Homo sapiens: one gene and its partner. The protein of the gene in region 1 purifies or fractionates together with the protein of each later gene. This does not show direct contact. Each region holds a gene or a part of one and is shown on either strand. Other genes may lie near its edges.

Region 1 (3,818 bases):
CTGCTTATGTTATCTGTTAACTGTTTATATTATGCTATGTTTACGTTATCATAAGGCTTCCGGTCAATAGTAGGCTAGTAGGAGTTAAGTGTTGGGGGAGTCAAAAGTTATAGACAGATTTTTTACTGTGCTGGGTGGGGGCCAGCTATAGTTGTCACCTCGCTGGCCTCAGGATTCAATAATGCATGTTAAGCGCTTGCCAGGGAAGTTGATATATTGTAAGTGCATATTATTATTTATTAAAAAGTTTGACCAAAGCAATGAAACCAGTTCTCATTTACTGCTACATTAAACTATTCACCTTGACCAAAGAGAAAGAAACTACAGGCTTCAAGATGGTCCCAGAATCCCCAGCGTCTTGTGGCATGCCCAAAAGGTAAGTTCTGAGAATAATAATAGTGAGGTATGCAAAGATGAGTGGAGAATATCAGCTTCTTTAAAAGGGGCGCTCTGTTCTTAATGACTCATTACTTCACACAATCTGTAGAGCAGAGGTAATATTGGGAATGGAAGGCCTTTACATCCCCACAAAGGTAACATAGCGCTTGCTGTGGTGGAAGAGGACAGAGGAGAAGGGAGCTGGGCAGGACACCTCCTCTCCCCAACTTCTCTCCCCTCTCCAGCCTGACTGGAGAAGTGGGCAGAGGCCCTGGGGCTCTTTGCTTGCAGGACTGCCTGTTCCAAGCTCCATCTGAGCTCCTGTGCTGAGGTCTCAATTCATCAGAAAGTAAAGGGGCAGGGACCTTTCAGAAGCCTGACCCAAGGGTCTGACATGACCCAGCCAACAAAGCCCGCAGAATAAATTTAGCCCCAATGATCTTGTACCACACAGCAGCCACCTGCTCAAACAGTTGTTCTTGCCAAACTCATTAAAACTATGTTCAGCTTCTTTCATGTTTCCAGCAGCCTAGGACTCCAAGGGGGTAGCAGGAGTGCCCACAGAGCACAACCTCGCCTCCACCACTTGGATCAAGGTTGCATCAAACAAGCAAGAATGTTCTGGTGTCGTGCAACCACACGGGGAGGAAGAAGGCGTTCCTTTCCCTGATCTTCTTCCAGCTTCTCCACAACTGAGATGGGCCTGGCAGGGGATTTGGAGGGTGGTGGCAGGGGAACTGGAGAGTGGTGACAGGGGTCAGCAGAACTCTTAGCTGCTATGAATCGTCAGGTATGATCTGCCCCTGTGGATGGCCACCCTGTTGGCTTCGGGAAAGATGTCTTTTCCTAAATCATTCTTTCTGAACCCACTATGCCTGCAATTCAAGGCACCAAGGCAGTGCAATGACTGCTGGCGGTGACACTCCTGCCATATTTTGTGCTACTCACCCTAATATGCAGCCCAAACACTGAGACCTATTTCCACGTGCAACATCACTTAAAAACCCATTCTCTGGGCTCAGCAGGCAGAACCCCCTGATATATGGCAGGGGGTAAGAAGCCAGGGACCAATGTTCAGGCAAACCATTAAGGTATGGAAAGAACAGAGGAGTTCGTGTTGATTTCACTGTCCTTACCTACATAGCCCAGGAATGAATATATAGATTTATAATACATAAAGAAAACATGCAGTGAATGTGGCCAAATCCCAAGCTTGACCTTCTGGGCCCCATATGATATGCACGGTGAGCAGGCAAAGTTCCAATGAGCTCTTGCCACCTGCCAAGCCCATCTGCTACAAACACACTGGCAGCCAGGAAGTCACACATTATAACCCTATAGGATTCCTAAAAAGTGCCAACAGTCTTCTTGAGGAGTAAGAGGGTAAAGGGATGGAGAGAGGGCCTATCATGCCTTACCCTGGAAAGATATGTGACCAGGCTCCTGTTAGATGAGTCAGGTCAGCTCAGACTTCTGGGGTGCATCAAAGAGGTGTTGGAAAACCACTAAAAATCATGAAGTGCACAATGGAAGCATGAAATTAACCAGAATCAGAGACTTGACTTAAGAGGTCCTTTGAAGGCATTTTCCAAAGACAATGGAAAGATAGTAAATAATCCCCAATCAATAAGTAATTTCAACCACACTGTACTGATCTGTAAGTAATCTCTTTGTGACCACACATGACAATTTTCAGGGAGAAGACTGAATCCCCATCCCATGACAGGTTAGGAAAAGACACACTCTATTTTAACCCCTTGATCTGGCTGGAAAACCATGGCGCAGGCTACTTGCTGAGCTCTGTAACTTAGTGGCAAGCTAACAGAAGGCCCGAGATTCCCCAACATTTTGTTCCATCCTCTCTGCCATTTGAAAATTCTCTTTCTCAAAAAAGATAAAAGTCTACTTAGGAAAACAAGAGCAGAGGCAGAATGAATTGAGAAGGGGATGCCAAAAGACAGAACTTACTTTGCAAAGCGACAGTGTCTAGCGTCTCCACAGACTACTCACACATTCAATTCACTCCAAAGGTAATTTATACTTCACGAAAGAGTTTCCAGTGTTGTAGTAATGGTAGATGAGAGCTGTCAGGCCTTAAGTAACAGCCTATTTTAATGCCTGGAGAGAAAAATACAACTTGCACGCATTTATGGAAATGTACAAAGGTACAGGAAACCGACCCTTGCCTCCATCCCCTTCTAACAAATGCAGTAGGCAGGAAGTCCTCCACACCAAAGAAAGATGCTATCAGCACGTCCACTTGCATAGGAATACAAATACAATTATTTCTTTAACAAAGAAAACTAATGACAGTAGGCATACATCCTACTGGGCATTAAGTATTTTGTTATATACAGTTAACACCTATTTGAATTGGGTACCATAGCACTTAATTGTTTTGTTCTATGCATAGCAAAGCAACCAACTGAATCTAATATTAGTCATTCATCAGCTGATAAAACTTTTTCAGAGAAACAAACTGCTACATTTTCCCCTCAAAGAACAGCAAGCATTTTAAACACATTTTCCCAGAGATGTTATGCTGAGGAAAACAGCTTAGAAATGTTACTTTAAACAAATCCCTTCTCTGGCTACCAACAACAAGATGAATTGGAACAAATGCTTGGCTCTGTTCTTTCCAAGCCTCCTTCTGTCCACCTGTCAAAGGCTGCCGTGACCCCACCGACCCAAAAGGCAGCCTCTGGAGCTCTGAAATGTGTCACCCTGCACGGACGCCCTCTGCACTGTACGCCAGCATTCTCATTAAGGATTATCCAACTCAGTTGCAGGAGGGAGAGACAAGATGGGCTGGCTGCCAGGAATTCTTTCAACACAGATTCCGAAAGAATATCCTCCGAAGTGCCGAAAGCCCAGATTTTCAGCAGTTCACTTTCTAGATTCTGTTACATAGCAACCATGCCAGCTCACAGGGAGTACCAACCAAGTTAATATTTTGTTTAAATGACACACTGCATTAACCCGCTAGGAAAACCCAAATTTTCTTCATCAAAAGGGGATACCAACCTACCTACTGCCCGTTGTCATCCCTGGAACAAAACAGCCAATGATGGATTGATGAGTTTGCTTCATTCATTTAAAAAAAGAATTTAAAAAACAAAAACAAAAACATTTGAAAATGAATCTAACAGTCTCTTGGCAGAGGAAGCAAAAGGTGACTCTTTCCCAAAACCATTTGTACTAATATTGTTAAAGTTACATTAGCATGCATTTAATATGTGCATAATGCCCTTTCGTTAAAAGATGACTTACACGGTTGCATTTTGAAATGCAAAGATACTCGTTTTATTCAAAACCTTGATTTGAAAACTGATAACTCAATAGCACTTAAACACTCTTAGGGTCTGGGCCCATTGAACTGCACCAACACAGACAAAATGAAAACACAAGACTAATTTGGAAGAACAGTCAGAAACCCTGAG
Region 2 (3,818 bases), on another chromosome or scaffold:
GAGCGGGTAGATGTGCAATAAGAATACTCTGAGATGATTGTTCAAATGGAGATTCGTCCAAGTGCTGTGGGAACATGGGGATTTCAGAGACAGGTTTTCAGCTATTTCAGTATTTGAGCTAAAAAACTTGAAGGATGATTTGGTATTTGGTGGTGAGCAGGGCATGAGGAAGGGAAGAGTTTTCTGAGACAACATGTGAAAGGCAGGAGATGGGAGAGAGATTGTAGTGTTCTTAGAGACCATGTAGTAACAGTATTGCTTCAGTGCTCAACAGTGCTCAATGAAGACAGTGTCAGAAGCAAGTAGGGGGCATTAGATTCTGTGATCTTCTATGCTTTATGTGAAGGAGTTAAATTTTATCCTATACTTGTAGGGATGCCATTGAAAAATTTGAGCAGTAGAGTGACATGGTGTGATTTCCATATTGGGAGGATTGCTCTGGGTAATGTAAAGGAGAGGCTGGAATAGAGAGGGATAAAGGCAGGGAGGCTGGTGAGTGCCACTAGGAGAGGAACAGGATCAGGTTTGTTGTAGTTGAGGGGAATTGCAGTGAATTGAGGCGTGAACCACTCTTAGAAGCCTAAGGTTATGGGGCCGGGCATGGTGGCTCACGCCTGTAATCCCAGCAATGGGAGGCCGAGGCGGCTGGATCACAAGGTCATGAAATCTCCTGGTTAACACGGTGAAACCTGTCTCTACAAAAAAAAATACAAAAAATTAGCCAGGCATGGTGGCACGCGCCTGTAGTCCCAGCTACTTGGGAAGGTGAGGCAGGAGAATCACTTGAACCCAGGAGGCAGAGGTTGCAGTGAGTTGAGGCCACGCCACTGCACTCCAGCCTGAGCGACAGAGCAAGACTCCATCTCAAAAAAAAAAAAAAAAAAAGCCTAAGGTTGTAAAAGGAAGCAATGCTTTGGGAAGGTAGAGGATTGAAGGGGAGATTCAGGATCAGGGTTCTTAAAAAAATCTTTTTTTGCCTAATAAGTGGCCTTGAAGAAGTTTATATGCATATGCTGATTAGAAAGATTCAATAGAGGCCGGGCGTGGTGGCTCATGCCTGTAATCCCAGCACTTTGGGAGGCTGAGGCGGACAGATCACCTGAGGTCAGGAGTTCAAGACCAGCCTGGCCAACATGGTGAAACCCCGTCTCAACTAAAAATACGAAAATTAGCTGGGTGTGGTGGCACACGCCTGTAATCCCAACAACTTGGAAGGCTGAAGCAGGAGAATCGTTTGAACCCGGGAGGCGGAGGTTGCAGTGAGCCAAGATCGTGCCATTGCAGTCCAGCCTGGGTGATGAGCAAAACTCCATTTCAACAACAACAAAAAAGAAAGATCCAATAGATAGACTTGAAGATAGAAGAAAGTGTAAATACAGGGGAAAATGATGAAACAAATCCCCGAGGAGGCATGAAAAGAAGTTATTCTGAGCACAAATAATTGGTTTAGCCTTGGATAAGAAGAGGAGGAGTTGTGAGAAGGGGTCATGGAACTAAGGATGCAGTCAGATGATTTTGTGAAGGAGCCAGAAACCTTGAGATTATCCCCAGTAGCCTCGGCTTGCTCTGTGACTTGGGAGAGAACAGGTGAGGAGGACAGGTGTTAAGTTGTAGTAGCCTCATCTGCACCCTAGAGTTTTCTCAGATGGTGCAGCCTAGGGGCAGGGATGGAGGAGCTGAGACTTCGATTATTCTCTGGGTTTTTTGCCAGATGATTTGAGGAGGCGGGTGGAGGATCTGCATGTGTCCTTTTCCTAGGTTTTGAATTCCTGATGCTGTAACCACATTATTTTATCTTCTATTTTGATGAGTATGCAGCTTTGCATTGCAGTGGCTGTGTAAACACTGAATTTTGTTTTGCTTCTTGACCATTTATTTTTCCTACCAGGATAGTAATGATGACACTGAAGATGTTTCACTGTTTGATGCGGAAGAGGAGACGACTAATAGACCAAGAAAAGCCAAAATCAGGTAGGAGGAGAGAAGTTGCATGAGCTGTGTTAGTGTCCAGTGCTGTTCTGTATGTATGTCAGTGCTAGCTGATGGGAGTCAAGGCAGAGTTGTTTCAATGTGCTTGTGAATACTGCATGTTGCTAATTTGACGTTTAGTGTACGACAAAGATGACATTTCAGATTTTCTTGTGAATAATTGGCATACTTAATACTGAGTTTTAAAATCAGCAAATCCAATTATTTGAACACCTGTGTTTTTAATTCTGTGCTATTTTCCAAGAATGTACCATTTCTTTATATAGTTTCTATAGATACATTACATTTTGATTTATTGTGCACATTTCAAAATCACATAACATTTCTATTCTAAATTTAATTCTCTCTAAAGAAATTCACTTACTGAAAGCAAATTCTACTTGAACCCTGCTAAAATGCTGTCTTTTACTTTTCTTTCATCTTTCATGCCAGTCACAAAAGACCACATATTGTATGATTTCATTTATATGAAATGTCCAGAATAGGCAAATCTGTAGAGACAGAAGATAGATTAGCTGTTGCTAGAAGCTGAGGGGTTTGAAGGTAAATGGGGAATGACTGCCAGTGGGTACAAAGATTCTGTCTGGGGTAATGAAAAGTTGTAAAATTGGAGTGATGGTTGTACAAATCTGTGAATGTACTAAAAACCATTAGATTGTTTACCTTAAATAAGTAAATTGTATGATATGTGAATTATATCTCAAAAAAGCTATTAAAAAACAAGAAACAGGCTGGGCACGATGGCTCATGCCTGTAATCCCAGCACTTTGGGAGGCCGAGGCAGGTGGATCACGAGGTCAGGAGATTGAGATCATCCTGGCTAACATGGTGAAACCCCATCTCTACTAAAAATACAAAAAATTAGCCGGGCGTGGTGGCAGGCGCCTGTAGTCCCAGCTACTTGGGAGGCTGAGGCAGGACAATGGCGTGAACCCAGGAGGTGAAGTTTGCAGTGAGCCGAGATTGTGCCACCAAACTCCAGCCTGGGCGACGGAGCGAGACTCCGTCTCAAAAAAAAAAAAAAAAGAAAAGAAAGAAAGAAACAAACTACCTGATAACTTTGTCTTAATGTCTGAGTGATTTCTGAGGGCTAAGGAATTCTTTTGGTGTGATTTGAAAATAGGATTCAAATTCTAAGATACAGTTTCCTTATTTCTCCAAGAGAGATAAAATTCTTTATTATCTATTTTGTGAAAGTTTATATTCAATGAGGTGTTAAAGTCATCTGTGCATAGTGTATTTTCTGTAACTACAGGGCCTAGTCAAATAGTGGGGCTTAAGAAAAAGAGAGCTAGGAGGTTTGCTTCATCCTACTAAAGTCACCTCTTTTATTTTGACAAAACTCTTCACAGTTACACGATGGCTAAAACATTTTTCTCTACATTTGCTAGTACCTGTAGTAAAATGTAATTGCATTTCTTTCATTGTGTTTTGGTTTTCAGACATCCAGTAGCATCGTTTTTCCACTTATTCTTTCGAGTCAGTGCAATCATCGTCTATCTTCTCTGTGGGTTGCTCAGCAGCAGCTTTATTACCTGTATGGTGACAATTATCTTGTTGTTGTCGTGTGACTTTTGGGCAGTGAAGGTAATTTTGATTGTTTTTATTTTAAAATTATATTTAATATGAAAATGATGTATAAAAATATGAGTTAGCATTTTGCATTATTGTTAATCTTTTGTTACTTCAAACCTCATCTGTGTTGAAGTGCTAGATATATCAAATTGCATGTAGTTTTTTTTTTTTTTTTTTTTTTTTTCATTTTTTCCCTTTGACAATACAAGATGAGACATGCAGGTTACTGTGCTGCTGATTTTTCTGTGCCATAT

Evidence for each region.
Region 2: the proteins of KAZN (region 1) and TVP23B fractionate together in Homo sapiens (co-fractionation; one large-scale study listed by BioGRID). This does not show direct contact.

What each region holds. Positions count from the first base shown.
Region 1 is NC_000001.11:14,601,683-14,605,500, reverse strand, and holds part of KAZN (kazrin), read right to left. Parts: intron 1-3,818. UniProt on the Homo sapiens protein: Component of the cornified envelope of keratinocytes. May be involved in the interplay between adherens junctions and desmosomes. The function in the nucleus is not known.
Region 2 is NC_000017.11:18,787,465-18,791,282, forward strand, and holds part of TVP23B (Golgi apparatus membrane protein TVP23 homolog B), read left to right. Parts: intron 1-1,570; exon of another isoform or gene 1,571-1,587; intron 1,588-1,888; coding exon 1,889-1,971; intron 1,972-3,431; coding exon 3,432-3,576; intron 3,577-3,818.